Linked DNA regions of Homo sapiens: regions 1, 2, 3, 4 and 6 are each linked to region 5. The links come from fine-mapping of genetic effects on gene expression. A gene starts in region 5. Each other region holds a variant in brackets. All regions are shown on one strand. Distances are between the middles of the regions.

Region 1 (5,134 bases), 42 kb before region 5:
GGCTCCTACCTGTAATCCCCACAATTTGGGAGGCCGAGGCAGGGAGATCCCTTGAGGTCAGGAGTTCGAGACCAGCCTGGCCAATACGGTGAAACCTCATCTCTACTAAAAATACAAAACTTAGTCGGGCATGGTGCCGGGTGCGGTGCCGGGTGCCTGTAATCCCAGCTACTCGGGAGGCTGAGGCAGGAGAATCGCTTGAACCCGGGAGGCAGAGGTTGCAGTGAGCCGAGATTGCACTACTGCACTTCAGCCTGGGTGACAGAGCAAGACTCTGTCTCAAAAAACAAAACAAAAATAACATTAGAAAGTAATAGATGAATATGTTTTTGCTTGATTTTATGAGTAGACACATGGGAACAATTCCTAAGTTTGTCTTGAGCACTCTATAAATAGTTTAAAAGAAAACCAACAGTGCTTAAAATTCAACCAATACAGTTAGAATTACGACTTGAAAAGAGGGTATGGCTATTACATATTGCTGTAATATGTTCTACTTTCCTTACAGGAGAAAAAAAATTAGCTGGGCATGGTGGCACGTGCCTGTAATCCCAGCTACTTGGGAGGCTGCAGCAGGGGAATTGCTTGAACCCGGAAGGTGGAGGTTGCAGTGAGCTGAGATTGCGCCACTGCACTCCAGCCTGGCGACAGAGCAAGACTCTGTCCCCCCTACCAAAAAAAAATAAAAAATAAAAAAAAAAAGAAAGAAATTGCCCGAAGTTACAGGTCATCACTCACTGAATTGTGAACAGTTTAAGAGACGTGCCCAAGTGCTCACCCTCCTCAGTTCGGAGGAGCTATTACGTTGGTGCAAAAGTCATTACAGAACCGAGGCCAGGCCACGCACACGAAGCCTTTATCTGTGGGCGCACAGGTTGGGGCCTCATGACAAACTCTAAAGGCTTTAGACCGTCTCGTTATCTTTTCAACACATCCACCATCAATACATAATAGTGCATACCTGCAAATACATGTCTTGGAATTTAATTAAGGTCAACCTAAGCTTCTAGTTTTTTGTTTTATTTATTTTCTTTTTATTTTTCATTCTAAGCTTCTAAACACATAAAATGAGTAGCCCTTTTCCACAGAAAATATCAGAGCTAATAATTTGGATATTTCTTCTAGATTCGATACAAAACCAATGAACCTGTGTGGGAGGAAAACTTCACTTTCTTCATTCACAATCCCAAGCGCCAGGACCTTGAAGTTGAGGTATTTTATTTGCATTTTTTAACCAATTTATTGACAAATAATTGACTTTTTAAAGTATACAATTTGCTGAGTTGTGACCCGTGTATACACCTGGGGATCCATCGCCAGAATCAGGACAATTGGTAGATCTCTCTGTAACCCGGGCCTCCCCTAGCCCCAGGCAAACACAGACCTGCCTTTGGTCACTGTAGATTACTGTTCACATTTTCCAGGATTTTATACAAATAGAATTATGCGGTATGTCCTCTAGTTGTCTATATTCTCTGGTGATAATTATTCTGAGGTTTACCTGTGTTGTTGCAGATACCCACAGTTTGTCTTTTTTTATTGTTGAGTAGTAGTTATGGATATACCACAATTTGCTCATCCATTTACCTGTGAGTAAGACATTGATAAAAGATTGGGTTCTTTCCGGTTTAGACCTATTACATATAAATCTGCTGTGAATATCACATACAAGACTGTGTGTACATATGCCTTCATTCTGTTGGGTAAAATGCCCAGGAGCAGGTTGCCAGGTTCATGTTTAGCTTCTTAATAAACTGCCAAATTGTTTTCCAAAGAGATTGTGCCGTGTCACATTCCCACCGAAGTGCATGTGAGTCGAGCGGGCCCCACATCTCGCCAGTGCTGTGGTGTTAGTGGGTAGATAGGAGTATTACCGGGTGGTTTCAGCGTCATTACTAATGACGTTGAGCACCTTTTTATGCTTTTTTACGGTCTTTGTATCTTCTATGGTGAAATGTCTATTCAGTTTTTTTGCCTGTCTTTTTTATTTGGTTATTTGTCTTCTTAATACTGAGTTTGTAAGACGTTTGGGGTTTTTTTTTTAATGTTTCATTCTTT[C/T]TGAGATGAAGTCTCACTCTGTCATGGAGGCTGGAGTGCAGTGGTGCGATCTCAGTCACTGCAGCCTCCACCTCCTGGGTTCAAGTGATTCTCTTGCCTCAGCCTCCTGAGAGCTGGGATTACAGGTGCGCGCCACCACACCTGGCTGATTTCTTGTATTTTTAGTGGAGACGGGGTTTCACCATGTTGGCCAGGCTTGGCCTTGAACTCCTGACCTCAGCTGATCCGCCCACTGTGGCCTCCCAACGTGCTGGGATTACAGGCGTGAGCCAACGCACCCCGCCTCTTTGTTTTTGAGAACAGAGTTTCACTCTGTTACCCAGGCTGGAGTGCAGTGGTGTAATCACAGATCACTGCAGCCTCCAACTCCTGGGTTCAAGTGATTCTCTTGCCTCAGCCTCCGGAGTAGCTGGGACTACAGGCAGACACCACCATGCCTGGCTAATTTTTTTATTTTTTGTAGAGAATTATTTTATTTTTTGTAGGGTCTCACAGTGTTGCCCAGACTGGTCGCAGACTCCTGGGCTCGAGCAGCGATGTTCCCACTTCTGCTTCCCCAAGTGCTGGGATTGCAGTTGTGAGCCACGGTGCCCAGCCTCTTTTTCTTAATATGGCTGTGTAGTTGTTCAGCATTTGTGCAGTTGTTCAGTCTTTGTTGAAAAGATTATTATTTGCCCTAATTTATTAGCTTAGCAACTTTCCAGAAATTCAGTTGCCCATATGTATAGGTCTGTTTCTGGAATTCCTTCTGTTCCATTGTTCTATATGTCTGTCTTTATGCCAGTATCACACTGTCTTTATTATTGGTGCTTTATTAATCTTTTTTTTTTTTTTTCTTGAGGCAGGGTCTCACTTTGTCACTCAGGCTGGAGTGCAGTGGTGCAGTCATGGCTCACTGCAGCCTTGACCTCTTAGGCTCAAGCAATCCTCCCGCCTCAGCCTCCCAAGTGGCTGGGACTAGAGGTGCACACCACCACACCCAGCTAATTTTTGTGTTTTGGGTATGTGTGTATGTGTGCCTCAGCCTCCCAAGTGGCTGGGACTACATGTGCATGCCACCATACCCAGCTAATTTTTGTGTGTTGGAGGGGCGTGTGTGTGTGTGTGTGTGTGTGTGTCTATTTATGTATGTAAAGATGCGGTTTCACCACATTGCCCAGGCTGGTCTCGAACTCCTGAGCTCAAGCCATCTATCCACCTTGGCCTCTCAAAGTGCTGGGATTACAGACGTGAGCCATCATGCCTGGCCTGTCTTCTCTCTTCTTCTTCCTAATAAGTCTTACAAGATGTTTATTGATTTTATTTTCTTAACCAATTTTTTGTTTAATTGTCATTATTGCTTTTCTTTTACTATTTCATTGATTTCTACTATGATCATTATTATTTCAGTCCCACTTACTTTGGGTCTTTGCTTCTCTTTTTCTAGTTTCTTAAAGAAGAAGCTTGAGACATTTCTGTTTTTATAATGTAGGCATTTACTCCAATAAATTTCACTTTAAATTCTGTAGCTACATCTCACAAATTTTGACTTGTCGTTGATGTCTCCTTTTGATTATTATTATTTCCTTAATTTCCCTTTCAGTTTTTTCCTTTGACCTGTGTATGGGTTATTTTGGTCTGTTATTTAGTTTCCATATGTTTGGGGATTTTTTTTTAATCTTTCTATTATTGATTCCAATTTCATTCCATAGTGGTCAGAGTACATACTTTGTATGACATGAGCCCTTTTATGTTTGAGACCGGCTTTATGGCCCAGAGCACTGCCTGTCCTGGGACACACTCCACGTGCACCTGTAGGCTGTGTGCCTTTCTGGTGTTGGCGAGTGTCTCATGAATGTCAGTAGGTCAGGGTGGTTGGTGGCATTGCCATTGCTCAGGCCCTCTGGGGCCTTACTAGTTCTCAGACTACTTATATCAGGTATGAAGAGCATGGCGTTTAAATCTCTGAATTTATGTTTTTTTCCTCAGCCTCTGTTTTTGCTACTTGTATCTTGAACCTCTCTTGATAGGTGTGTGTGAACAGCCAGGCCTAGGAGACCTGGTCATGCCGCTTGCCCGACCCTGTCTCATTAGATAGGTGAGTGTGAACAGCCGGGCCTAGGAGACCTGGTCATGCCGCTTGCCTGACCCTGTCTCATTAGATAGGTGAGTGTGAACAGCCGGGCCTAGGAGACCTGGTCATGCCGCTTGCCTGACCCTGTCTCATTATTCTGTGTTGGTTGTTTTATTAGGTTGGTGCAAAAGTAATTGGAGTTTTTGCCATTGAAACTGCAATTACTTTTGCCCCAATCTGATACTTTTTTACATTCTGTTTTATACAAAAGGATTTGTGTTTTGTCTAGCTGGTTTTTCCTTCATAAAGTGCACTTCTGTATTCTCAAAATAATCTATGCTTACTGGACCTTGGATTTTAAAAATAATTTTTAAAGTTCCACAAACATTGTCATAGTTATTTCATTTAAAACTGCTTTTGTGATTATAGTTTAGTTTGAAAAGAAATATGCAATCAACCTTTTAGGTTTTCCTGAGTAGTTATGTGTTAATTTCTCTGACCATTTTTGTATAGCCTGAGAAACCTTCAGAGTTCTTACTCTATTTGATTAAATTATTTTATATTACAGCCATCTAACAGGAATAATTCCTGTTGCAGAGATAATGCAGAAGGTTATTATACAGGAAAAAGAGGCTGGGCATGGTGGCTCACACCTGTAATCTCAGTACTTTGGGAGGCTGAGATGAGAGGATCACTTGAGGCCAAGAGTTTGAGAACAGCCTGGGCAACATAGTGAGATCCACCTCTGTTTTTTAAAAAATTTTTAAATGCCTTGCTGTAAATTTTCTTTAATGTGGATTTTGAATGGAGAAGGCTTAAAAGGTACTTAGAAATGTATTGTCTCCATAAATGTCATGAATGGAAACTGTATACATCGTTATGAGTGTGTATTGCCACCATTTTCCCAGGGGTTAAAAGACAGGTAGACTATTGCCTATTAACCCAGGGTTCTCCGAACCGATTGGTCATTATTGTCATTACTGCTTTTCTCATTTGTCATTATTACATCATTTCTTTCTGTGC
Region 2 (5,062 bases), 32 kb before region 5:
AGCCAAGATTGCGCCATTGCACTCCAGCCTAGGCAACAAGAGTGAAACTCCGTCTCAAAAAACAAAAACAAAAGAAATAATGTCAGTTTTGAATAATTAATTTATATTGAACCCTCAAGTAAAATATTCATCTGTTTGACTTGTACCCAGAAGTTTCAAATTATGTTTAAGTTCATGGGTAATTTGACTTCTTTTTGTCTAAATGAATAGAAATTATTTTATCGTGTACAGTGGACCAATGAATCACAACGTTCTCCAGTCTCAGGCAAGCTGGTGACTTTCTGCTCTTTTCCCACAGCGGGACGACCCTGGGACAGTCTCCACTGGGGCAGATCCAGCTGACCATCCGGCACAGCTCGCAGAGAAACAAGCTTATCGTGGTCGTGCATGCCTGCAGGTGGGGGCTGGGGTCCCACGCGCCCGCTGCTGTGCTGCTGAGTGTGGATGCTGGATAGGATGATGTAGACACCGCCTTTAGGATTTCCAAACATCCATTTATGTTTCATTTAGAAAGGACAAAGCAATTAAACCTCTAGAGACGGTGCTCGTAAAGGGTGTCACCACTGCGTATGTCACATGACAACGTTTTGGTCACCGAAGTACAACGGTCCCCTAAGATCATACTGTATTTTTACTGTACCTTTTATGTGTTTAAATACACAAATATGGCTTGGCATGGTGGCTCACGCCTGTAATCCCAGCACTTTGGGAGGCTGAGGTGGGCAGATCACCTGAGGTCTGGAGTTCGAGACCAGCCTGACCAAAATGGAGAAACCCTGTCTCTACTAAAAATACAAACTAGCCACGTGTGGTGGTGCATGCCTGTAATCCCAGCTACTAGGGAGGCTGATGCAGGAGAATCACTTGAACCCAGGAGGCAGAGGTTGCTGTGAGCCAAGATCGTGCCATTGCACTCCAGCCTGGGCAACAAGAGCGAAACTTTGTCTCAAAAAGAAAAAAAAATACACAAATATGTCACAATTGCCTACAGTATTCAGCACAGTAGCATACTGTACAAATGTGTAGCCTAGAGCAGGAAGAGTGTGTGTGTGTGTGTGTGTGTGTGTGTGTGTGTCTGTGTGTGTGTGTGTATTTTTTTTTTTTTTTGGAGACAGAGTTTTACTTTGTCCCCCAGGCTGGAGTGCAGTGGCACAATCTCATCTTACTGCAACTTCCGCTTCTTGGGTTCAAGCAATTCTCCTGCCTCAGCCACCCGAGTAGGTGGGATTACAGGCGTGCACTACCTCGTCCGACTAACTTGTATTTTTAGTAGACACGGGGTTTCACCATGTTGGCCAGGCCTCCTGAGTAGCTGGGACTATAGGTGGAAGCCACCAGGCCTGGCTAATTTTTAATTTTTTTATGGAGACGCTGGTCTCTAATTCCTGGCCTCCCAAAGCACTGGGATTATAGACTTGAGCCACCATGACTGGCCTAATCAGGAAGAATTTATTTTAACTTGTTTGTTATATTAATAAGTATAAAGTCAGGTGACTGTTGCATTAATTGCATTTGTTAACAATGATACTGTGGGCTTACGAACTATTTTCCTTTTATGCAATTTTCTCTGTCCTATTAGTGGTTTAAAATATGATATAAAAATTTGGTGCTTATAAATAGCTGTTGGAAACATAGGAAAATAAAATTAGCACCATTTAGAAAGATGATAAAAATGTAGAGTTCAGTACATCACTCTTGAGAAGTTCATATATTCTTGCCACTTAGATAATGATCGTGGGGGATACTGTTGTAGAGGAGTCTAGCAAAACAATCCCTCCTAGACTTTGTGGTCAGTCAGCAAGCGAAGAATGTGGGGGCCTGTGCAGCTGGGCACCTGACCGCGTTTGCTGCAAAGGAGCAGCCCCCTTCTGGAGGGGTAGGCACTGTGGGGTGGGGGCCTGGCTTTCTTGGCTGTGAGAGAGAAAATGGCAGAAGCATTATGGAAAGACAACCGTCACTCTGTTACAAGCAGAGACCAAGGACTTGGAACGTCCTCCAAACTCTGGGCTTGAGAAATGAAGGCCGAAGTCGCTGCTGAGAAAGCCACTAAGAAAGGAGTTTGGGAGATGCCACCAGGCAGCCGTCGGGGGAGGCAAAAGCGCCTCACGCATTCTGTTCCTTGTTGCTTCTCGGTTTGTAGATAAACATGAAATCAAAGCTTGATAAAGCATATCTGAATGTGCTGCTCATTCTCTTTTTCTCGGTCCTAATACCTCGTCTTATCTGGTTTGTGTTGTAAGAAACCTCATTGCCTTCTCTGAAGACGGCTCTGACCCCTATGTCCGCATGTATTTATTACCAGACAAGAGGCGGTCAGGAAGGAGGAAAACACACGTGTCAAAGAAAACATTAAATCCAGTGTTTGATCAAAGGTACGGTATTTTATCCAGCTGAGGATAGACTGCCCGGTTGAAGTGACGGATTAAGAAGGCCCTAAATGGTGCCTTTGAGTGGCCAAAGCACATAAATCAGCTGTTGAGAAGTT[C/T]AATCAGAAACCAACTTTTAGCAAACATACTTCTCAAAACAAATAAGCATTTTGACCTTCATGTAGAAGCTCTAAATACAGTAAATTCAAGTTACAACCCTGTGGACATGTAGACTAGTGATTAAATAAAGATCAGGTTACTGATGGCCCTGAAGAACTCATTTTTGGGGGTTATATCTGTTGACACTTAACTATGTTATCAATTAAAACTGAGAATTTAAGGATACATATATTTTTAATTTTATTTTTAAATAACAGTAAGCCCCAAACATCTTACCGTATGACATATTGGAAAAACAACTGTATTTCCAAAAATAAAAAACATAATGAAAAGAATGGTATTATTGTTCAGCATTTTTGCTCATCTCTTTAGTGGTCTGGCTCAAGAGGGGCTGGAGCCTGCTTCTGTGGTCAGGGTGATTTGGTGACCTCCTAGGAGGGTCTCAGAGACACCCCCAGGGGTCATTGGCCCCCACTTTTAAAGAGCTGCTAATCTGTACCATTTTGGTATCTTAGGTGATTGTCCCCTAGTGCTTCAAAACCCACCCTTGTTTTGGGAAATGATAATAATACAGTTGTATGGTGTCGCTATCTGCTAATTCAGTTTACGTTTCATCTTTAAACATCCTCCTCATTCATTGTACTTTCATACAAGTAGCTTTATGTAAAACACCCATCAGAAACTGGCAGGCGTGCATCAGCCCGATGAGGTTGTGCAGGGTGCTCCTACCCATCCGAGGCATTTAAGCGTCTGGAGACTCCACTTGCCCCCCAGCACGGTGGCCTGGGGCAGGCACCCGCAGCCCGGAGGAGAGACGCCCTGCAGGCACTTTAGTGCAGCGTCTGGCTGAGCATCGGGAGTGCTTTGGAGGCCTTCTCCCTCCTGCGAAGCTGCAAGCACATACTTTTTTTTATTGGAGATGGTGGGAATAGGGCCTGAAGACTAAACCAGACTGAGTGGAAAGCCTGAGTGAGTGGGCTGCTCTGGAATTGCTGTTTTGTCAACATTATCCCACATTTTAATCCCCTGGAAGAGTCAGACATGTTGAGAGACGCTCCTCACCCACCCGTGAGTGAGCCAGGGACCTTGGGACCCAGACATCTATGGGATGCCAGAGCCTTCTTTTATGTGTGGGAAATGAAAAAAATGTTGGTTTTTGAGTCTTCCTGAAATGCCAGATTAAAACATTAGGTAGAAGAACTCAGTTTTATAATAAAAAACAAACATGACATTTGGAATGATCTCATGAGCAGAAATGCCATTTTTAGTTATAAGAAAATACAGCAGAATGATGGATAAAGTAAGGCTCTCGTTTCCTATTTCAGCTTTGATTTCAGTGTTTCGTTACCAGAAGTGCAGAGGAGAACGCTCGACGTTGCCGTGAAGAACAGTGGCGGCTTCCTGTCCAAAGACAAAGGGCTCCTTGGCAAAGTAAGTGCCAAACGAATCCTCAACCAGTTCCTGCAGTTTGTAAAATTGAACATTTACCTGCAGTGCAGTGTTTAGACCATGTCTGTGTAAGTGGAAGGGGCGAACTTACGAGGTCGATGCTTGTTTATAAATCATGGGCTATAAAGACAGTCAAAACATCTGTGCTTTCTGAAGATATTTTAAGTTAAGTCTTCACATTTTTGTTCAAGTATCACATTGAAGGAAAATAATCTCTTACAATTCCATCTCCTCAACTGATGGCTCTGCTCTTTTTCTAAAATTCTTTGGCTTTATTTATGTGAATTTCTTCTACTCTTTGTCCGTATTTCACATTTCACTTTGGCATGTGAGTGTATGTTATTTAGGAATGAGAGTAGGTTCAGTTGGGGAGGAAGAGATTTGAGTCACGGGCATCATTTCGTCAGCTGTGCTGCCATGGAGGGCACATGGGCCAACCCTTCTGTGAGTCATCTCCGCTGATATTCCGTCATAGCTGAATTTTAAGACTGCTGGTTGCATGAAGGATTTCTTAGATGTATTCAGCGATGTAGCTTACAGGTGCTCAGGGGGGTAGAAAAGATTGAAAAAGTAAGAGCCTTCAGAAAAGGGAGAGTCCATATTCCTAGATGAAGACAGAAGATTAGAGAGATGAGAAGAAGTGGTAAAAGATCTAAAAGACATTGTCTTAGCCTACTTTATGTATTTGTTTATTTATTTAGAGACAGGGTCTGTAGAAGCACAGGCTGAAGTCCAGTGGCGCGATCATGGCTCACTGCAGCTTCAAATGCCTGGGCTCCAGCAATTGCTGTCTCAGCCTCCCGAGTTGCTGGGACCAAGGTGCGTGTCAGCACGCCCAGATAAATTTGTTTTACTTTTAATAGAGACAAGGTTTCACTATCTTGCCCAGGCTGGTCTCAAACTCTTGGGCTTAAGAGATCCTCCCATCTTGGCCTCCCAAAGTGCTGGGATTACAGACGGGAGCCAGTGCCCCCAGCCCAGCCTACTTTAACTGCTTTTTTAACAACCCACAGGTATTGGTTGCTCTGGCATCTGAAGAACTTGCCAAAGGCTGGACCCAGTGGTGAGTGTCCCTGCTGCAGACAGAGAACCCCAGTGTGTAGCTAAAAACGCTTTCCCCGCCCAGT
Region 3 (5,134 bases), 79 kb after region 5:
CAAGTCTTTTATTAGGGTTGGGTATTACAGTATGTGGCTCCTATTTTTATTTTATTTTATTTTATATTTTATTTTTGAGACCGAGTCTCGCTCTGTCACCCAGGCTGGAGTGCAATGGTGCGATCTTGGCTCACTGCAACCTCTGCCTCCTGGGTTCATGCAGTCCTCCTGTCTCAGCCTCCCGAATAGCTGGGATTACAGGTGCATGTCACCATGCCTGGCTAATTTTGTGTGTGTGTGTATTTTTAGTAGAGATGGGGTTTCACCATGTTGGCCAGGCTAGTCTCAAACTCCTGACCTCTGTGCTGGGATTACAGGTGTGAGCCATCGCACCTGGCCCTATTTTAATTTTTTAAAATGGTGTCTTTCAAATAGGAAATTTTAATTTTGAAGAAGTCCTGTTTATCAATTATACTCTTGTAGTTTGTGCTTTTTGTGTTCTATATAAAAAGACATGTAAAAAACCATGTTTATTTGTTGTCCTGTATGAAATAACATGTTTTATTTTGGCTTGCATAGTTAACTGATGAGAATCTTTTTTTTTTTTTTTTTTGAGACAGAGTTTCGCTCTGTCACCCAGGCTGGAGTGCAGTGGCGCAATCTCGACTCACTGCAAGCTCCGCCTCCCGGGTTCACGCCATTCTCCTGCCTCAGCCTCCCGTGTAGCTGGGACTACAGGCGCGCGCCACCATGCCTGGCTAATTTTTGTATTTTTAGTAGAGACGGGGTTTCACCGTGTTAGCCAGGATGGTCTCGATCTCCTGACCTCGTGATCCGCCCGTCTCGGCCTCCCAAAGTGCTGGGATTACAGGCGTGAGCCACTGCGCCCGGCCGAGAATCTTGCTGTTATTTCTACATTGGTGTCTGTGGCTGCTTTTATTATCTCCTTATCGAAACCTAAAAGCTCTGCTCTTGTGTTTAGGTCTGTGATCCATTTTGAATTAATGTTTATGTATGGTATGAGGTAAGGATTTATTTATTTCTTTATGCCATATGGATATCTAGTAGTCCCTGCACCATTAGAAGGTAATATTTTTATCAAGGAACTCCATGACACATCTCTGGACCTGCCCTTCATCTAGACCAGCAGGGCTCAGCTGGGCATGAGTTTGCCCCTCTTTCCGTCAGTGGCACAGGTGTCTTGGTGGGCTGGGTTGCCACAAAATGCCTCAGGTAGGAGGCACGGGACAGCCCTTGCAACAAAGAGTCATTCCAGCCCAGTGGTCAATGGTGTGATGTTGAGAAGCTCTGCTGTGTAAGTGTATGTTTGAGCTGTTATGATTAGGTGTGTAATCCATTTTAAGTTAATCTTGGATGTGGAGTCCAAGTTCAGTTTGTTGTTTTTGGTTTTTCCCCATATGATTATCCCGTTGTTCCTGCACCCTTTCCTCCTCCATGAAATCACCTTGCATCTTCGTCAAGATGCAGTTGGCTATACCTGTGTGGGCTCTTTCTGGAGTCTTTTCTGTGCACTGAGCTATGGCCATCCTTACGCCAATTCCCAGGGTCCTTTTTATTTGAGCCGTACCTGTGTCTTAAAATTGTGAATTGCAAGTCCCCAATTGGCTTTCTGTTTTTTGATGTGGTTTTGGCTTTTCTAGCTCCTTTGCCTTTTCATATACATTGTAGAATCAATTTGTCAATTTCTACAGACGAAAACATGCAGTACAATTCTGATTGTGATTACACTAAATTTACAGATCAAGCTGGGGATTAACTCGCAAAAAGAGTCCGGCCACTTATGGAAAGAAGGCAAAATAATAAGTTATGATGAGAAAGAGTGATATTCCTTTATTATTTGTGCAGGCAAGGGGAAGAGCAGTTCCACTCTTCAGTTTGTGGAGGGAACGCAGGGTTTTACAGAAAGGGTTTGGAATGCGGAAGAGGCAAGGGGGACTAAGAGGTGCCAGGTGGCGTGACTTGCTTCAGTGGCCCTTCTTGAATTATTGTCCCATTTGGTGAAGGGGCCGGCACCATTGTGCATCCTACCAGGTTATAAATTAATCACAGTCAATCTTGTAGTCACTCTTCAGCCAGGAGAGGGTTCTGGCCTTGAAATAATCTTTTGTTGGAAAGAGAATTCCGGAGTTGCCTAGTCCCTTTTAGGACCCGACCCCTGAAGCTTCTAAGCAAATAAATGGCCAGATAAGAGAGCATGGTGTGTGCTTAACTAGTATCTGGGTAAATACATGTGCATAAAGCATGGGAGCATACAGTGGGAAAAGAAAGAAGAGTGGAGGGCCCGGGTTCGGTGGCTCACGACTGTAATCCCAGCACTTCGGGAGGCTGAGGTGGGTGGATTGCCTGAGGTCAGGAGTTCCAGACCAGCCTGGCCAACATGGTGAAACCCCATCTCTACTAAAAATACAAAAAATTAGCCAGGCGTGGTGGCACACGCCTGTAATCCCAGCTACTTGGGAGTCTGAGGCAGGAGAATCACTGGAACCCAGGGGGTGGTGGTTGCAGTGAGCGGAGATTGCACCACTGTACTCCAGCCTGGGCGACAGAGCGAGACTGTTTCCAAAAATAAAAATGAAAGGGAGTGGAGGTTCGCAGCACATTCCAAGGCTGTATTTCGAGATGAAAGGTAACACATATGCAGTTTGTCTCAAAGTTTTATCTTGAGACTGGGAAGGGGAAGAGGAAAAGGAAAAGAAAAAACAGTTTGAAACACAGTTTGAGGCTAGGCTGCTAGGCTGCTAAGCTCTTCGGGCAGAGGGAGAATTGACACTCAACAGTGTTGAGTC[G/A]TCTGATCCATGACCATTGTCTAGTTTTTCAGACATTTAATTTCTCCCAATATTTTGTCATTTTCATGATATAGGTCTTCCATATGTTTTATTAAATTTATCCCTACGTATTTTGTGTTTTATAGAGCTGTTGTAAATGGTAGTATTTTTAAATTTTCAACTTCTAATTGTTTATACTGGAATAGAGGAAGGCAGTTTCTTTTTGTATGTTGACTTTGTATTCTACTTTTCTAAGCTCATTGATGACTTGTGGTAGTTTATTTATAGGCTCTGTCATATTTTCTACTCAGACGATCAGGTTATCTAAAAATAAATGCCATTTACATCTTCCTTTCCAGTCTGGATGCTTTTATTGCTTTTCCTTTTTGTGCCGGTGAGAACCTCCAGTAAAATGTAGCCTGGAAGTGGTGTGAGCAGGCACTCTCGCCTTGTTCTGGTCTCCACAGCACAGCATTCAGTCTTCCACAGCTCAATAAACTGTAGGTTGTTTATAGATGCATTTTATCAGGATGAGGAAGTGCCTTTCTATTCCTAGTTTTCTGAGAATTTTTTTCCGTGAGTAGGTGTTAAAATTTTGTCAAATCCTTTTTATGCATTTTTTTTTTTTTTTGAGATGGAGTCTCACACTGTCGTCTGGGCTGGATTGCAGTGGGTGATCTTGGCTCACTGCAACCTCCGCCTTCTGGGTTCAAGCGATTCTCTTGCCTCAACCTCTCGAGTAGCTGGGATTACAGCTGCCTGCCACCATGCCTGGCTAATTTTTTTGTATTTTTAGTAGAGATGGGGTTTCACTATTTTGGCCAGGCTGGTCTCGAACTCCTGACCTCATGATCTGCCTGCCTCGGCCTCCCAAGGTGCTGGGGTTACCAGCATGATCCACCGCGCCTGGCCCACATCTATTAACTAACATATCTACCTTCAAAAAATACTGTATCCCTTCATGAGTTGCACACAAACTTAGCAGCTTACCTCCACCTTCTGTTCGCTGTGCTATCATTGTCATACATTTTACTTCTACATATGTTATTCCCAAAATTCATTGTCATTATTTTTGTTTTAAACTGTTAATTAACTTTTTAAAAGATTTAAACATGAGAGAAAATTGTCTTTTAAGTTTATCCACGTATTCACTATTTCTGGCAATGTTCTTTCCTTTGTGCAGTTTCAGATTTCCATATGGTGTCATTTTCTTTCTTTTAAAGAGCTTTCTTTAATATCTCTTTAGCATATATCTGCTAGTTATGAGTTTTCTCGGCTTTTGATTATCTGGAAGAGTATTTTGCCTTCATTTTTGAAGGTTTAAAAAATTTTAAAGACAGTGTCTTGCTCTGTCACCCAGGCTCAATCATGGCTCACTGCAACCTTGACCTCCTGGGCTCAAGTAGTCCTCCTGCCTCAGCCTCCCAAGCAGCTAGAGCTACTGGCATGTACCACCACATCTGGCTTTTTTTTTTTTTTTTTTTTTTGTAAAGACAGGGATTTGGGCCGGGCGTGGTGGCTCACGCCTGTAATCCCAGCTCTTCAGGAGGCCAAGGCAGGTGGATTACCTGAGGTCAGGAGTTCAAGAACAGCCTGGTCAACATGTTGAAACCTCGTCTTTACTAAAATACAAAAATTAGCCAGGTGTGGTGGCGGGTGCCTGTAATCCCAGCTACCCGGGAGGCTGAGGCAGGAGAATCACTTGAACCCAGGAGGCGGAGGTTGCAGTGAGCCAAGATCGCTCCGTTGCACTCCAGCCTGAGTGACAAGAGCGAAACTTTGTCTCAAAAAAAAAAAAAAAAGACGGGTTTGCCATCTTGCCTAGGTTGGTTTCTGAGGTATTTTTGCTAGAAAGAGAATCCTGCGTTGATATTTTTCTCCCAGGAGTTTAAGCATGTTTTACTGTGCCTTATTTGGTTACTGATGAGCATCCTACTGCCAGTCCCACCTTCGTGTCTCTGTCTGCCTTCATGATCTCTTTATCACTTTTTTGTTTGTTTGTTTTGTTTTGAGACGGAGTTTTGCTCTGTCATCCCAGGCTGGAGTGCAGTGGCGTGATCTTGGCTCACTGCAACCTCTGCCTCCCGGGTTCAAGTGATTCTCCTGCCTCATCCTCCTGAGTAGCTGGGATTACAGGCATGCACCACCAAGCCCAGCTAATTTTTGTATTTTTAGTAGAGTCGGGGTTTCACCATGTTGTCCAGGCTGGTCTTGAACTCCTGACCTCAAGTGATCCACCTGCCTCGGTCTCCCAAAGTGCTGGGATTATAGGTGTGAGCTAACACACTCGGCCTATCACTGGTTTTTAGCAATTTGATTATGATGTATTTGGGTGTGGTTCTCCTCATGTTTCTTCTGCTTAGGTTTCATTAGAATTGTTGAGTGTGTTGGGTTTTAGTTATCAAATT
Region 4 (5,134 bases), 430 kb before region 5:
GACAGTATTTTGCTACTACAAACAATGTTCTAGTGACCGTTTTGTTGGTGGGAATAAAATATTTCACCAGCATTTGAGGGTTAACTTCAAGCCACTCATATAAAATGGGAATCACCATCTCCTATGACCAAATGACACTATTTTAGCCCACTTTCTCATTCCTGTGTCGGTTGTGTCATGTGGGATATGGTTAATCACAACCCATTTTACACCTAACCCCTTCTTGCTTGTTTCTCTTTGTCAGAGGAAACCAGACAGTGTCCACAAATGGGTTCTTGCTCACAGCGTCATGTGGGCACTGACCCTCCTCGGAGGGTCCAAGGCCCTGTGTGGCTGCAGCATTCCACCTCGCTCTGTGGTCTCGGCTCAGCTGCCCTGCGATGCTGCCCTCTGCTGCGGGAGCTGGAGCTCTGGTGGGAGCTCGCTGTTCGTGGTCCTCAGCAGATATTCAAGGCAGACCTGTTCTAAGAAACTAAATGAATAATCACTGTGTTATGCTCCAGAAGGTCTGAACCGAGCAGTTTTGGCATCCACGGCAGAGAGCAGAGAAGTAGGTTCCTCTGATGTCAATATTGATGGTGTAGACGTCAGTTGTATCTTAAAAGGTGCCTATATCTTTCCTTTTCATTTTCTTTCTGATATAAGTAGGTCCTTGTTCTAGTCCAAATAACTTTTTGGACTGATGAGATAAACAGCCTGGTCACTTTTTTCTTTTGGATCTTTTTGACTAGATTTCTTCCATTTTCTAAACTCTTTAAGGTCATTTCCTCGTCTTGGATATTTAAATAATTAATAACTGTTTATTGGTTGGGACAGTCTTAAAGTAATGTCTTTATGCCTGGTGCAATGGGCTCATGCCTGTAACCCCAGCACTTTGGGAGATCGAGGCAGGAGGGTAACTTGAAGGCAGGAGTTCAAGACAAGCCTGATTAACATAGCAAGACACCAAAAAAACTTTTTAACTTAACCTGGTGTGGTGACACACACCTATAGTCCCAGCTTCTCAGGAGGCTGAGGCAGGAGGATTGCTTGAGCCCAGTTCAAGGCTGCAGTGAGCCATGATGGCACCACTGCACTCCAGCCTGGACAACACAGACAACAGAGCAAGAAGCTGTCTCTATTTTTTTTTAAAGTAATGTCTTTATATTTACTTTTTATAGGAAACAAATCTCACTGAATTAATTTTTACCCTGAATAAAATGCTTAAGAATCATAAAGGGAATTATGGTTGAGAAGTCAGTTTCTGGCAGGTGAAGGAGTGGGCCACTCAGAAGTGCACTAATGGCTTCTCCTGTCTGGGAAGAACGGAGCTGTTGCCTGGGTGACCACAGTGGGTCACAGGAAGCCATTCAGGGTGGGCGGCCGGCCCCTTGAGGTGAGCTGCTGCTGATGGGGTCAGAGTCAGCTTCCTCCCCACCCCTCCTGCTGAGGTCAGGGCTCAGTCTGGTGCTGGTGACCCCAGACACAGCAAGCTCCCACCAGTCGATGGCCTCTCCTGGTGCATACCTCTCTGCCTTCTCCACTCCCCTCCCTTGATCTCTGTCTCCTCCATCCTTGGGCTCTCACACCTGCCTCCTCCTCCCCAGGTATGCCTGGGTGTCCTCAGAACCTGGCTGCTTCCTGTCCTGCTGGTGGGGGTTGGTGACGAGTGGCGGCTGCTTCTCCACATGGCCACAGCAGTAACAATTCCTGCTGGCCTCATTTTTTATGATTTTATATTTATATACCCATTTCACATTCTTTACTTATGAGCCATGGTTTTTACAGCATGTTGTCTGTCGGGGCCTCCTCCTTTTCCTGGGCTCAGCCTGTTCTTCCACAAGGACTGTGTTGACGCGGGGGTTCTTGAGAGGCTCAGAGACCTGGGTCAGTGGAAACGAAACCCACAGCCAGCATGCAGCTCACCACACACACAGCTCCTCAGTGTGTGGCCAGTGACCTCTCAGCTTCTTCCGGGGCAGCAGTGGTTGTCTTGGGTACATGGCCACTGTGGATGGACACTAATGTGCGCTTTCATGCAACCTGTCAGATTCTTGGTGGCTTCGACTCTCACATGTTTTTGATTTGCTATGGTTTGAATATTTATCCCCTTCAATACTTAGGTTAAAACAATCCTCAATGTAGTAGTATTGAGAGACGGGCCTTGAAGAGGTGATTGGGTCATGAAAGCTCTGCCCTCGTAAGTGGGTTAATCCGTTAATAGATTAGTGGGTTTTCAAGGGATAGGTTTTATAAGAAGAAGAGAGACCTGGGCCAACACGCTCAGCCCCCTCACTACACGATGGCCTGTGCCACCTGGGAACCCTGAAAAGTCCCCGCCAGCA[A/G]GAAAGCCATTGTGGCCACTCGACCCTGGATTTATCCAGCCTCATAACTGTGAGAAATAAATGCCTTTCCTTTATAATTTACCCAGTTTCCGGTATGTTGTTATAAGCAACAGAGGCAAACTTAGACACATGAGCAGACTGCAGCTCTTCCTGAAGGGGACTTGGGACTCGAACCTCTTTGGTCACAAAGCTTTGTAGAGTTTTCTGGGTCAGCACCCAGTCCTGTGATTCCCTGAAGGCTTCATGGCCAGGACCTGTGTGTTTGAGGGTTGCCTCGTGTCGTGGGATGAGTGGAAATTAAACCGTCCGGCTGACATTTGCTGATGCGTTGGCTGATCCTCTCATTTATTTATTTTTTCTGAGATGGAGTTTCACTCTGTCGCCCAGGCTGGAGTGCAATAGCATGATCTCAACTCACTGCAACCTCCGCCTCCTGGGTTCAAGCAGTTCTCTTGCCTCAGCCTCCTGAGTAGCTGGGATTACAGGCGCCTGTCACCACGCCCAGCTAATTTTTGTATTTTTAGTAGAGATGGGGTTTCACCATGTTGGCCAGGCTGGTCTCGAACTCCTGACCTCAGGTGATCCACCCGTCTTGGCCTCCCAAAGTGCTGGGATTACAGGCGTGAGCCACTGTGCCCGGCCTCCTCCCATTTATTAACATTTTTCAGCAGGTTTTTATGGAACAGATACCAGATTGTAATAAAGAACTTTCCTTTTTAAATATTATTTTTATTTTATTTATTTTTTGAAACGGAGCCTCACGCACTCTGTCACCCAGATTGGAGTGCAGGGGTGCGATCTGGGCTCACTGCAACCTTTGCCTCCTGGGTTGAAGCAATTCTCCTGCCTCAGCCTCCCGAGTAGCTGGGATTACTGGCATGTGCCACCATGCCCAACTAATTTTTTGGATTTTTGGTAGAGACAGGGTTTCACTATGTTGGCCAGGCTGGTCTTGAACTCCTCAAGTGATCCGCCTGCCTTGGCCTCCCACAGTGCTGAGATTACAGGCGCGAGCCCCTGTAGCCGGCCCTTTTTTAATGTTAAAGACTCACTTTTCTTAACTAATCAAAGACTAGAGACAGCATGAAGCTTAATAAGTTATCCTGATAAAACACAAAATCATTGTTTTCTAGGCCAATTACTTAAAATGTTAAAAAAAAAAAAAAAAAAAAAAAAAACTTTTGTAATTAAGAGAAGACCAATATTCAAGAAAATATTGTCCTATTGGCCAGGCGCGGTGACTCATTCCTGTAATCCCAGCACTTTGGGAGGCTGAGGCAGGCAGATCATGAGGTCAGGAGATCAAGACCATCCTGGCTAACACGGTGAGACCCCGTCTCTACTAAATATACAAAAAATTAGCCGGGCGTGGTGGCGGGCGCCTCTAGTCCCAGCTACTCAGGAGGCTGAGGCGGGAGAATGGCGTGAACCCAGGAGGCAGAGCTTGCAGTGAGCCGAGATGGCCCCACTGTACTCCAGCCTGGGTGACAGAGCAAGACTCCGTCTCAAAAAAAAAAAAGAAAGAAAATATTGCACTATTAATAGAAAACAAACTCACTTTGTGTCAGTACTTGAAGCTTTTTTTAACAAAAACTTATAAATAAAATCATTCTAATGTTAGTAGTTTGACCACACATAAAATTTCTTTTGTCAGACTTTCTACAACTGTGTATACCCACTCAGTTTTTTTCTTACTCATTTTCTTCTTTTTTATTCTGGAACAATCAGTCATCTTGCTTTAAGTTAAAAGTACTCTCTTTTTCCTTAAACACAGACCTCATATACTTTTCCTTATTAAAAACACATCATACTTTCTCTGTTTTTTTCATATACAGTTGTTTGCTTTCATCTTTATTTCCAGTGATTTTAATTACACATGTTAATTCAAATTCTTAATCCTTAGTGACACTGATATGCACTGTGAATTAGGAAGTACATGATATCATAGTTATTAAATGGCATGTACTTTCTCAGCACAGGACACACTTACTGGCAGACCTAGGTAGCTCCAGTTCCTCTAGAATAAGCCAAAAATACTTGAGCTTAAACTTCTTTTTAGGAATTAGTGTTTTAGTAGTTTATCTTATTTGGGCATGATCTAGATATGTAGTAAATATCATTTAATTTAACTTAGTATAATTTCAGAGTTTCAAGTTTTCAAAAATATTTTGGAAACTGTTTTTAAACAGACGGATAATATCAAACTACCTGTCATCTCAGGTTATTTTTCTTGTTGACAAATTTTTTAACAGGAATAATGAGCTTATTTGACTAGCTCAGCTAGGTAGAATGTCCATTTCTACTACATCATCGACATTCTTATTTATTAAAGATTACTCAAGTTAGATGAACTTGAAAACCATTGGGTTAGTTCCTTTTTTCTCACAAAATATTTAATTTTTACAAGCACCTAATTTTCTTTAGGCAAATAAAATAGATCTCGTTTATATGTTATCTCTAATAATAACATCAGAAGGTAGGGTAATATGAGATATAAATAACATACATACATATAGACGTACATAACCAAACAGACAGAAGCAGAGATTCCTGGCCTCTGTTCTCAAATTGTAGCCCTGTGCCAGGAACGATAATATAAAACTCACTGGTCGGTCCAAATTGTGTTCTTGGCAGATAAAGTTACCTGTTCGGATGGCCAAAGTCTTTTGTTAATACATATGGAAAGGACTTTACGATTTTCCATTTGCCAGTTTTTTTCTACAGTGTTCCCATTTTTTCTCCCTTCTGATGCGTCATTTCCCAGATGCCTGCATTTTAAAGATTTCGGTATCTCTAAGGCAGGGAGAAAG
Region 5 (5,134 bases):
CGCTGAGCTGCGGGTGGTGACACGCTCCCAGACTGAGGGAGTGAAGAGTGGTGACCCTTGTAGAGGCCCAGGCCTTGGGATTCCCCAAGCCAGAGCTATAATGCTATAGCCCTCCCACCCTCTGCTGGCGCCCAGTGGCCACCCCATGCAGTGGGAAGCAGCGGTGGGGCCGGGACAGCCAAGGAGCCGTGGACCGGTGTGGGGCGGCAGGACCAAAAGACCTGTAACACAAATGAGGTGAAACATGCCGCCCCGGAAACACGACCCCCTGCTAGCCACGCTGTGGGTGATGAGAAGGACAGAAGAGCTGTGGCCCTTCTGGGAGCCCAGACCTCGGGGCTCCCCGAGCCAGGGCTGTGACACAGTGTAACCCCCCTTTGGGGCTCTGTGGCTCCTGGCATCTGTGAGCTTTCGGGTGCCACCATGTTCCCCTTGTCCAGATGCTGATGCCTGCAGTGGAAGCCACTTGTGGTACCTCTGGTCCAGCCACAGCCTTGCATGGAGCCGGCAGCTGTGCAGGCACCTAGAGCTGCCTGCTCCACCACAGCAGCTGCATGGCTGGGTGTGCGCAGTGGTTGGACCCCATGCTCGCTTGCTCACATACCCCTTGCCGCTCTGCACCTGGCTCACCCTTGGCAGGCGTGGGATCTGGGTTGGTAGTGCAAGCCGAGTGCAACCTGCTGGGCTGAGTGGGCTCGAGCAAAACTCTAGCAGAGGCACCGCTGGCCACGGAGGTTTCTAGCTGGTGAAGCGATACCCAAAGGATCCTATGACATTAGTGGCTGCATGGGCAGGTGCATTGGGGGTGCACTGGGCGCTCCTGCTGCCCTGCTTCCACGTGCCTCTGAGCACTGCACTACATAGACATTTAGGCCTCATAACAACCCCCTAGAGGAGGCTGAGCTCTGCATTATACAGACATTTAGGCCTCATAACAACCCCCTAGAGGAGGCTCAGTACTTAAGTAGGTCCCATTTGATAGATGAGGAAACTGAGGCTCAGTCGTCCATGGCTTGTCAAAGGTCACCAGCTAGTGAGCACAGAACCAGGTTAGCCCAGGTGGTACAGCTTCAGAGCTCACATGCGTAACTTGTTACATTATTCCTACTCAGGAAGTGGAAACCCCAGGAACAGATGGCTGATTGGAGGAGGGACCAGCATAAGGAAAGGGGCAGGATTCAGGGGTGGGAGGGGAAGTCGATATCTGTTTTGGATGCATGTCAGCACCAGCGTGGGAGTAGGCAGTGAGCTGTTGAAAATTCTGGAGTTCAGAAATAACCGTGTCTTGCAAATCCAGATGCAGAGGTCACTGCTTGAAGGTGGCAGTTTGCACCTTGGATATGAAGGAAATTGCTAAGAAGAAAGCAGTGAGAAGATGAGGGCACCAAAATTCAAGAAATGGCAGGGAAGGATCTGTGTATGGAGGGAGGAGGAGGTCAGAGGTGGCTGGAGCCCCAGGATGAAATAGGCAATGTTAGATATCGGCCACCTGTTGACAAGGGTCCCAGACTCAGCATCCTCTGAGTGGGTCTTCTCCCTCCCCTCTGCAGCCTGCCTTGCTTCACTGTTGCAAGCTTCCTAGTAAACCAGTCTTCTCCCTGCTATAATTTTATATTGCTTGTTGAAACGATATTCCAACAAGTAACATAAATATTTTTGATATACTAGGCTAAATAAAACATATTTAAAAATTAATGTCACCTATTTATCTTCATTTTTCTAATGTGGTCACTAGAAATTTACAAGTGCACTTGTGGCTCCCATGATGTTCCTATTGGTTGGTGCTGTGCTCCCACAGTGCAACGACTTCAATCTCGCCAAGACCTCTGGCTTGAGTTAAGCCAGGAAAACAGATACCACTCTAGACATCTCAAGCATGAAAGAATATAGCTCCAGGGAAGGCCAAGTCCTCACGAAGGGATGCAGAGCTCGGTGGTAAAGAGCACCGTTTTCTAAGAATTTGCTTTCAACAAAAATTGGGAACGCCCAATCAAGTTATTCGCTGACACAAATTAAAAGAGATTGATACATCAGTATGTGATTTTGGCATTTAAGTCCAAAGAATTGAATGACATTGCTACTCCTCCTTCACACGGGTGCCTCCGAGGGTCCCCGCTAAGGCCTCTCCCTCTCCACCCTATGGGCAGCTGACCTGCCGGGGGCCTCACCTGCTGGAGGAGCAACTGCAGGAGAAGCACCTGTTAGGGGCCGCACCTGGCCGGAGGGGCTCCTGCGGGGGAAGCACCTGCCCAGGGTGCACCTACCGTGTGCAGGCTGCGGACCACCCGGACAGGTGCCCCCTCGGCAGGGAGGGCGGTCACGGGGGCCGGCCAGGTCGGGGTGGGGTCCTCCCGGGGATCCAGACACGGCCCTGTGGCCTCTCCCCGCCCCAAGCCTTTCCTTTCTCTCCCCCTCTCTCTCTTCCTCTCCTTCCTCCTTCCCACAACACCGCCCGCTCGCAGCGCCCCGCCCTCTCCTGGACCGCGCACTCCCTCCGCGGAGGCCCCAGGACGCGCACGAGCGCGCAGTGGACGTCGGCGCGCGGACCGGGCATGGGTTCCCCAGCTGTGGCGCCCCGCGTGCGCGTTCCGTAGTGCCCGGTAGGGCACTGGGCTTAGCTGCTCGAGGCCGCGCCCTAAGAGGCGGGGCATAGACAGGAAGAAGACTGGCGGGCATGTGGGCGGGGCATGATCTGGAGGCGGGGCGGGCCGGGCGTGTGGGCGAGGCCCGAGGCTCGCGGCGCCCCAGCTCTCGCGAGAGCGGCGCCTGATGACGACCGGGAGGGCGGGGCCCGTCTGGGGCGCCGGCGGGTGCGTTTGAATCTGGTCCGAGCGCGGGAAACGGCGGGTCCCCGAGCCCAGGTAAGAGCTGCGGTGCCGAGCCGGGATTGGGTTCAGAGCAGGGGCTGGGAAGTAGCAGGGATCGGGCGGGAAGCCCCTCCTCGGCTGGTCGGGGTCCCAGCCTCCCCTCCCCTAAGGAGGCGGCCGACCTGCGTGCGGGCAGTGCTGCCTCTGACGGAACTGGACGGAACTGGCGACCCCGGGCCATCCCCCCTACCCAGCTCAGCGACGCCCGTCCTTCTTGTCCGTGTCGGAGGAAAATCCCAGCCCCGGGCGCGGGCACTGCCCTCAGAGAGCGACCCCCCAGCCCTGAGCATGGGCACCGTCCTCAGAGAGTGTCCCCTCAGTCCTGGGCATGGGCACTGCCCTCAGAGAGCGACCTCCTCTGTCCTGGGCATGGGAACTGCCCTCAGAGAGTGTCCCCTCAGTCCTGGGCATGGGCACTACCCTCAGAGAGCGACCCCCTCAGTCCTGAGCATGGGCACTGCCCTCAGAGAGCGTCCCCTCAGTCCTGGGCATGGGCACTACCCTCAGAGAGCGACCCCCTCAGTCCTGAGCATGGGCACTGCCCTCAGAGAGCGACCCCCTCAGTCCTGGGCATGGGCACTGCCCTCAGAGAGCGTCCCCTCAGTCCTGGGCATGGGCACTACCCTCAGAGAGCGACCCCCTCAGTCCTGAGCATGGGCACTGCCCTCAGAGAGCGTCCCCTCAGTCCTGGGCATGGGCACTGCCCTCAGAGAGCGACCCCCTCTGTCCTGGGCATGGGAACTGCCCTCAGAGAGAGTCCCCTCAGTCCTGGGTGTCGGTACTGCCCTTAGAGAGAGTCCCCCTGAGCCCTGGGTGTAGGCACTGCCCTCAGAGAGTATCTCCCCAGCTGTGGACGTGGGCATTGTCCTCAGAGACATCAGTCTCCTGAACTCTTGTTGCTGGTTTGGTGCCTCTTGTTGTGTCCATGAGGAAGGAGTTTGGGGACGGAGTGGGAAGTCACAGGTGGTGAGAAGGTAACAGGGATTTCTTCTTTTTAATGCTCATCTTGATTTAGTACCAGACCTCCTGTGCGAAGAGTAACCTGCTCTTCGGACTGATAACTGGATGGTGAGATGACTCCTTACCTTGAAAGTAGCATTCTGGCTGCAGGGCTGAGGTCTTATGCACATATGGTACAAGAAACATGGAATATTGCCACTTTGGGAGATAGATTGAAAAATTAACCATTAAAAAATTACAGTCACTAATATAAGAGGGAAAATGGGAAATATAGGAATAAGTTTGGTAGTCTAGAGGAAGTGTATTACTGTAAGTTGGACTAACATGCCAAAGAGGTACACTTGGAAATAGAGCAAACAAGAAAAGTGACCAGAACTATGAAAAAGTGGAGAGTGTTCACAGACTTGCCGGGCGAAGATGTATGATTCCATGTGTTTGCTGCACCTTATTGGATTATTTTTCTAAAATCATGAATTTGTCCTAGCCACTATTCATTATGCTTGTTACTGGCCACTCTCCCTTCCCTCCCCATTTTCTTTGTCAGTGAAAAATGTGCCAGTCATGCTTGATTTAAAGAGGGAGACACGTTGTCGTTAGGCAATTTCATCATTGCATGAACATCACAGAGTGGACTTGCCTACACCTAGAGGTGTAGCCTACACACATAGGCTGTATGGTGTAGCCTACTGCTCCTAGAATGTTACTGTACTGAATACTGTAGGCAACTGTAATACAATGGCAAGTATTTGCATCGCTAAACATATCTAAGCATAGAAAAAGCACAGTAAAAATATGGCATTATAATCTTATGGGACCACGGTCATACATGTGGTCTGTTGTTGACTGAAATGTTATGTGGTCCATGACCGTAGTTCATAGTTCAGCCATTTGAGTTGAGGAATGAGATGACCAGACTTCACTGTTAACTTATTTCGGGAGTCATTAAACTGAGGTTATTTTTGCTTTGTTCAATTTGGACATTAAAATCTAGTATTATATGTTTAAGATGACTCTCTGTCCCCATAATTATTGGCAATAATTTTCCATATTGCTCTATTTATAATGGTGCAGGTGGTTTTCATTTATTTTTAAAGTGAGGGGGCTCCTACTGCAAATGTGTTCCATCATTTGCTATTACCTCATCTTTAGGTTGATGTTTTTTCAGTAGGGCACCAGTAGCACCAGGTATTGTGAATGCGAAATAGAATTTCCTGGAAAAACACAGGCAGGATGGAGGGTATACAAAGTCCCCTGAGCTCTCATTATCCCGAAGGGGTGGGAGGAGGGTGCTGTGGTTGAGCATGCCT
Region 6 (5,134 bases), 110 kb before region 5:
TTCCTTGTAATTGAAATGTTTTATCCATTTGTTAATATCTCTCTAGACTCTCCCCCATTCTTTTAGTAAAAATAATACATGTTCACTTTTTTAAAATCCAAGAAAAAATATATTTAAAAGATCATCCATAATACCAAACCATCCATAATGGTAGTTGCTAGTAAAGTATAAATTGAATGGGGTTTAATGGATTACGGCAGTGTCTAGATGAAAGTATCAGTACAAAGTAAGAAGCACATCCCACGTGCACTTGTGTATTGCAGCAGCAGTGTCCTTTCGGATAACAGCTTCAGTTTTGTGCTTGGTGATTGCGTGCTGGAATTAGTGATAACCACACCAACAGCAGATGTGGAAATACTAATATGATGGTTTTCATTATGCTTTCTTTATTACTTGTAAAATTGTCATTGAAACTGAGTTTCTTTTTTTTAATTTGTTCAGTTACACGGTGAAGTCCCCCTTTATCTTTCTATATTTAATGAACATGTAGTTGTATTTTTCTTCATTTCTTATGTTATGGCTAGACAGGTTTCAAAAACATTTTTTTCTGATTTAAAGAAGAAAGTATGCTCATTGAAGAATAAGCTTTGGAGGAGAATAAAGAAGAAAAACGTTACCTGCAATTCTACTAACTAGTGATAACATTACATTGGCAACATTTCCGTGGATTTTGTTAATGTTTTAATGATATGTTTGGATATATGGGTGTGTATAGTATCCTCCTTTCTTAAATGCTATATTATGGATAGTATGTTATTCTTCAGAAATATGACTTTGACTATTGCAGTATCATCTGTCTTATGAAGCTACCAGACTTTATTTAAATGATGTCTGATAGACATTTGAAAAACTAGATTGTGAGATATGATATAATGAGAAGAGTTAAAAATAGAATTTGAGATATTTAATTTTCTGCTCTTTTTAAGTTATGAAAACGTATTTACTTGAGCTATTTATTAGATCTGTGTCTAGGATATATGAATTATTTTTGAACTCATTAGACATGATAATTTTGTAAGCAGAAGTCTGGCCTTGGAAGGCAGTGTTTGTTTTTGCATGGTATGTTGTTAAAAGACAGAGGATTTATCCCTATCTCTTTTTGTCTGAATAACCTTTGGAAGAAAGCATTCCCTCCATAATGAGTCACAACTTCAGATTGCTTTTCTTCCCCTGTGCTGTGTTGGTATATTAAAGTTTGCTAACAGTTACAAGTATTTTTAACTGCCATGGTTTCGTGTAGCACAATTGAGTAATGGCTACTTTGAGGTTCCCATGATGATTTGTTGAATTGGTGTGTCCTTGTCTGGACATGACCAGTCATGTGGCCAGGGCCCGTGCGAGTGGGGCTGCCCTTCTGTGGGGTGTGCTGAGGTGTGGCCACCGGCCTCTGGTTAGCTTTGAGGCTCCCACCGTCTCGCAGAGCCCACAGCTCAGGCTCTGGCTCTGGTGGGTGTGGGTTGCGCCCTGAGACCCACCCCTTCCTAACTCCCTGCCCTTGGGTGAGTCAGGTCCAACTCTTAGAACCTTGTTTCCTCTTTGGTTTGATGGGGGTTGAGCCTGACTCTGTGCTGTGGTTGTGAGGCTGGAATGCGGAGAGGCCAGTGAACACACTGGACATGGGCGGGCAGGGAGGCATGTCCTCGGGTCAGCCGTCTGAGTCACAGGCCCAGAGATGCCCAGCTGTGACCAGTGCTCCGCTTGCAGGCAAGTCCTGGTGTGGCCTTTGCCACCTCCCTCCCCCACCTCTGCTGAAATGGAACAGATGAGCCCTGGGGTTTTTCTTTGTTTCTGTTCCACCGTGGTTTGTTTACGCTGTTGCTAAGAATTTATCTACCATAATGCTTTGTTGTTATTAACACTTGCAAGTATGTGTGCCGTAAAATTTCACTTTCTCTTCCTCTCTGTATATCCCTAAAATAATATCCAAGGAGCCTACAGTGGCACTCCTCTTCCTTGCCTTGATTTGCTCTGTATCTTCCTTAAAACAAATATTGTTCCAAGGACATGGCTAATCTTTCTTGACTCCACTTCCAGGAGTCATCCTGATGCCATAGATAATGATAGTTAATTTTACATTTTGTACATATAACATTTAATTATTCTAATATTCATTAACTTCCTTTTGTGAATAAGTGCTGGTTAGTGACTAAAAAGTGGGGATTTGAAAGTGCACATCCTATTTCGGGGTCAGTTGTAATAGTTTAATTTTAACGTGTATTATATGTGGAGTTGTTTCCTGTCTGAGGGATTGATATGTTTTAAGTTTCCCAGAGTAAGGTAGATCTGTAGAAAATAAATCCAGTGATTTGGGAGAACATTATCTAACTTCATGCCATAAATATTATACTGGAGTACCTATTATATGCTAGTTTTTGATTATGCTGCTCACATTTTGAGAACCAGTATCAAATTGCTAAAATTATTAATCTGAATGATACTTTCACCTTCCATTTTCTTATGAAACTTTGTTATATATTTGTTAAAGCATTTAGTTTAATCTGTAAACCAAAAGTATCTGAGACAAGTCTCAATTAATTTAGTATTTTATTTTGCCAGGTTTAAAGGATGCTGGTGACATAGTCTCAAGACATTTGCCCAAGGGGGTTGACCTGTAAGTTTTAGGGATACATAAGACACCAATCAATACATGTAAGCTGTACATTGGTTCAGAAAGGTTGGACACCTGGAAGTGGGTACATTGGTTCAGAAAGGTGGGACACCTGGAAGCAGGTACATTGGTTCAGAAAGGTGGGACAGCTGGAAGCGGGTACATTCGTTCAGCAAGGTGGGACACCTGGAAGCAGGTTGGTGTGGGGAG[C/T]GCTCCAGATCATAGCTGGACTCAAAGATTTTTCTGATTGGCAATTGGTTAAGTTACTGTCTAGAGACCTGGAATCAATATAAAGGAATGTCTGGATTACCTTGTGGAGACCAAGGTTTTATTGTACAGATGAAGCCTCCAGGTAGCAGGCTTCAGAGAGAATAGATGGTTAATGTTTCCTGTCAGACTTAAAGAGTCTGTCAGTTCTTCTGTCAGTTCTGTCAGTCTTAAGTCTGTGTCATGGTAATGAGGTGTGTCCGATGCCCCACCCCCTCATCGTGGCCTGAAGTAGTTTTACAGGTTAACTTTGGAATGCCTCTGGCAGAGAGGAGGAGCTGTTCAGATAGTTGGGAGCTTAGAATTTTCTTTTTGGTTTATACTTTGTACCCAATTTGTAAAATGTTATATAAAGCTGGTGTTGATATTTATACACAATTAGAAGTGAATTGCCTACTGAGATCATTAATTTATTTCATTTGTGCTACAAATCTTTAAATGGCTAGTAAGTGCGTACCTAAAATTTGTTAACACCGTCTACATTAATATCTGAGTGCTAGACTTTTGAAACCGAAACTCCAAATGTAATCCAATACAAAGTAACAATACTCTTCCTACTTATTTTTTCACACATATAAAGATCTTGGAATTTATCCAGTAACTAGTAGAAAGAATTGATTTTACTTAATCACAAATGGTGCTGTGTGTGAAGCAAAGTTTTAAAAGAAATGCTCCGTAGATGTCAACGTGAGTACTGGAGCAGGAGGGAAAGGATGACATGGTTGGTGCATTAGGGCGCCTGTGACAAAGTGCCATCAACTTGGTGGCTTCAGACAACACTCTTATCTTTTAAGGGTTCTGGAGGCCAGCAGTTGGAAATCAGTTCCTCTGGGCTAAAACTGAGGGGTGGGCAGGGTGTGCACTCTGGAGGCTCCTGGGGAGAAGCTTTTCCTGCTTTTCTTGCTTCTCAGCCACATTCCATGGCTGCAGGCCCTTCTCCCTTCAGAGCTGGCAGCTGCTTTCATCCTCATGGGGCCATTCTGCTTTCTGTTTTGTCAAATCTCTGTTCCTCCCTGTTTTCTTTCTTTTCGTTAGACAAGGATTGAGGCTGCAGTGAGCTGTTTGCACCTAGGCTGGAGTGTGGTTGTGTGATCATAGCTCACTGCAGTCTCGACCTCCTGGACTCAAGCAACCCTTCCACTTCAGCCTCTCGAGTATCTGGGACTACAGGCCTGTACCACCACACCCAGCTAATTAGCTAATTTTAAACATTTTTTGTAGAGATGGAGTCTCACTGTGTTGCCCAGGCTGGACTTCCTCCGTTTTTAAGGATACTGGAGATGGCATTTAGGGCCTTATGGATAGTCCTCCACCAGCGAAGATCCTCCATTTTACCACATCTGCAGCGTTCTTTTTGCCATATAAAGCGACACTCACAAATTCCAGGGATTAGGACGTGACCATCTTTTGAGGGCTGTTACTCAGCTTCCCACACTACCCTGTTTCTTGGAGTATTCAGGAGCCAGGAAGGCTTAGTTCCAGCACTTTCCCCGTGCCGTAACATCTCAGAAATCAGATTTATTTTACAAGGGTGTATCACTGTTAATGGACTGTGCTCTTAGTGGCACATAAAGTGATGGTGCAGCTTATAATTGATCACATCTTGGATTCAATACTAAGGTTTTTTTCCATTTTTGGCTGTAGTCCTGGTGTCTGAGGTTGGATGTGGTCTTTCAGAGGTGGGATGAGGAGGAGCTGTGCAGTGGGAAGAAGGGTTAGGAACTGTGGGAACTGAGATGACCACAGGAAGCAGCACCATAAGTTACACAAGTGGAAGAGTTGGGCTTGATCCCTAGACACAGGGCAGCATCCAGATATCCACTAGAGGGATGTGTCCCAATTTAAAAGGGGGGTTTAGCAAGATACATTTGGCAGGGATATCCAGAGGGACTGGGGACACATATCTAAGCATGAGGGGGAAGGAGTGTGCCTGAATGTCAGGGGAATAGCTTTGGGGAGGAAGGAAGATAGATGAGTGAGCCAGGAATGTGAACAACCACCCCAGGGTGTAGAAATGATGGCTGGAACAATAGGAGCAGTAGTTTGAGGCTGGGGCTGCGGTGGGAGATTACTTCAGTCTTTAATGTTGGTGTAAGAAACCCAAGGAAGTTCCAAGAGGACTCAGCCCAACAGCAGCCAGCACCTCCCTGGAGAGACAGGAGACAGGCAAGCGAGAGGCGGAAGACCGTGTGGATAGCTTCACAAGGGAGCTGCCTCTCTGCACTCGGAGGAGTGTAACAGAAAACCCGTGAGAAAACA

What was found.
Region 1: its variant is fine-mapped to the expression of NCAPG2 in whole blood (TOPMed, PIP 0.98).
Region 2: its variant is fine-mapped to the expression of NCAPG2 in whole blood (INTERVAL, PIP 0.98).
Region 3: its variant is fine-mapped to the expression of NCAPG2 in stomach (GTEx, PIP above 0.99).
Region 4: its variant is fine-mapped to the expression of NCAPG2 in sigmoid colon (GTEx, PIP 0.98).
Region 6: its variant is fine-mapped to the expression of NCAPG2 in whole blood (GTEx, PIP 0.97). The same link has a PIP of 0.9 or more in aorta.

The regions. Positions count from the first base shown.
Region 1 is chr7:158,744,272-158,749,405 of GRCh38, reverse strand. It overlaps ESYT2 (extended synaptotagmin 2), which reads left to right. Exons shown (of 23, transcript NM_001367773.1): 16 at 1,126-1,212. Among named protein-coding and RNA genes, the nearest start is that of NCAPG2, 42 kb to the right of the region's middle. The variant C/T (reference allele first, on the strand shown) is at 2,059.
Region 2 is chr7:158,734,358-158,739,419 of GRCh38, reverse strand. ESYT2 (extended synaptotagmin 2) reads left to right here. Exons shown (of 23, transcript NM_001367773.1): 19 at 299-397; 20 at 2,241-2,372; 21 at 3,812-3,917; 22 at 4,949-4,998. Among named protein-coding and RNA genes, the nearest start is that of NCAPG2, 32 kb to the right of the region's middle. RefSeq lists an enhancer at 4,374-5,062. The variant C/T (reference allele first, on the strand shown) is at 2,486.
Region 3 is chr7:158,623,554-158,628,687 of GRCh38, reverse strand. No RefSeq gene overlaps it. Among named protein-coding and RNA genes, the nearest start is that of MIR5707, 35 kb to the right of the region's middle. The variant G/A (reference allele first, on the strand shown) is at 2,748.
Region 4 is chr7:159,133,373-159,138,506 of GRCh38, reverse strand. The region is part of intron 2 of VIPR2 (vasoactive intestinal peptide receptor 2); the gene reads left to right. Among named protein-coding and RNA genes, the nearest start is that of VIPR2, 8.9 kb to the left of the region's middle. The variant A/G (reference allele first, on the strand shown) is at 2,325.
Region 5 is chr7:158,702,451-158,707,584 of GRCh38, reverse strand. It overlaps NCAPG2 (non-SMC condensin II complex subunit G2), which reads left to right and starts at 2,781. Exons shown (of 28, transcript NM_017760.7): 1 at 2,781-2,861. RefSeq lists silencers at 2,125-2,404, 2,525-2,614, 2,765-2,864 and an enhancer at 3,442-4,020.
Region 6 is chr7:158,815,136-158,820,269 of GRCh38, reverse strand. All of the region lies in intron 1 of ESYT2 (extended synaptotagmin 2), which reads left to right. Among named protein-coding and RNA genes, the nearest start is that of ESYT2, 12 kb to the left of the region's middle. RefSeq lists an enhancer at 1,695-1,854 and a silencer at 4,898-5,134. The variant C/T (reference allele first, on the strand shown) is at 2,819.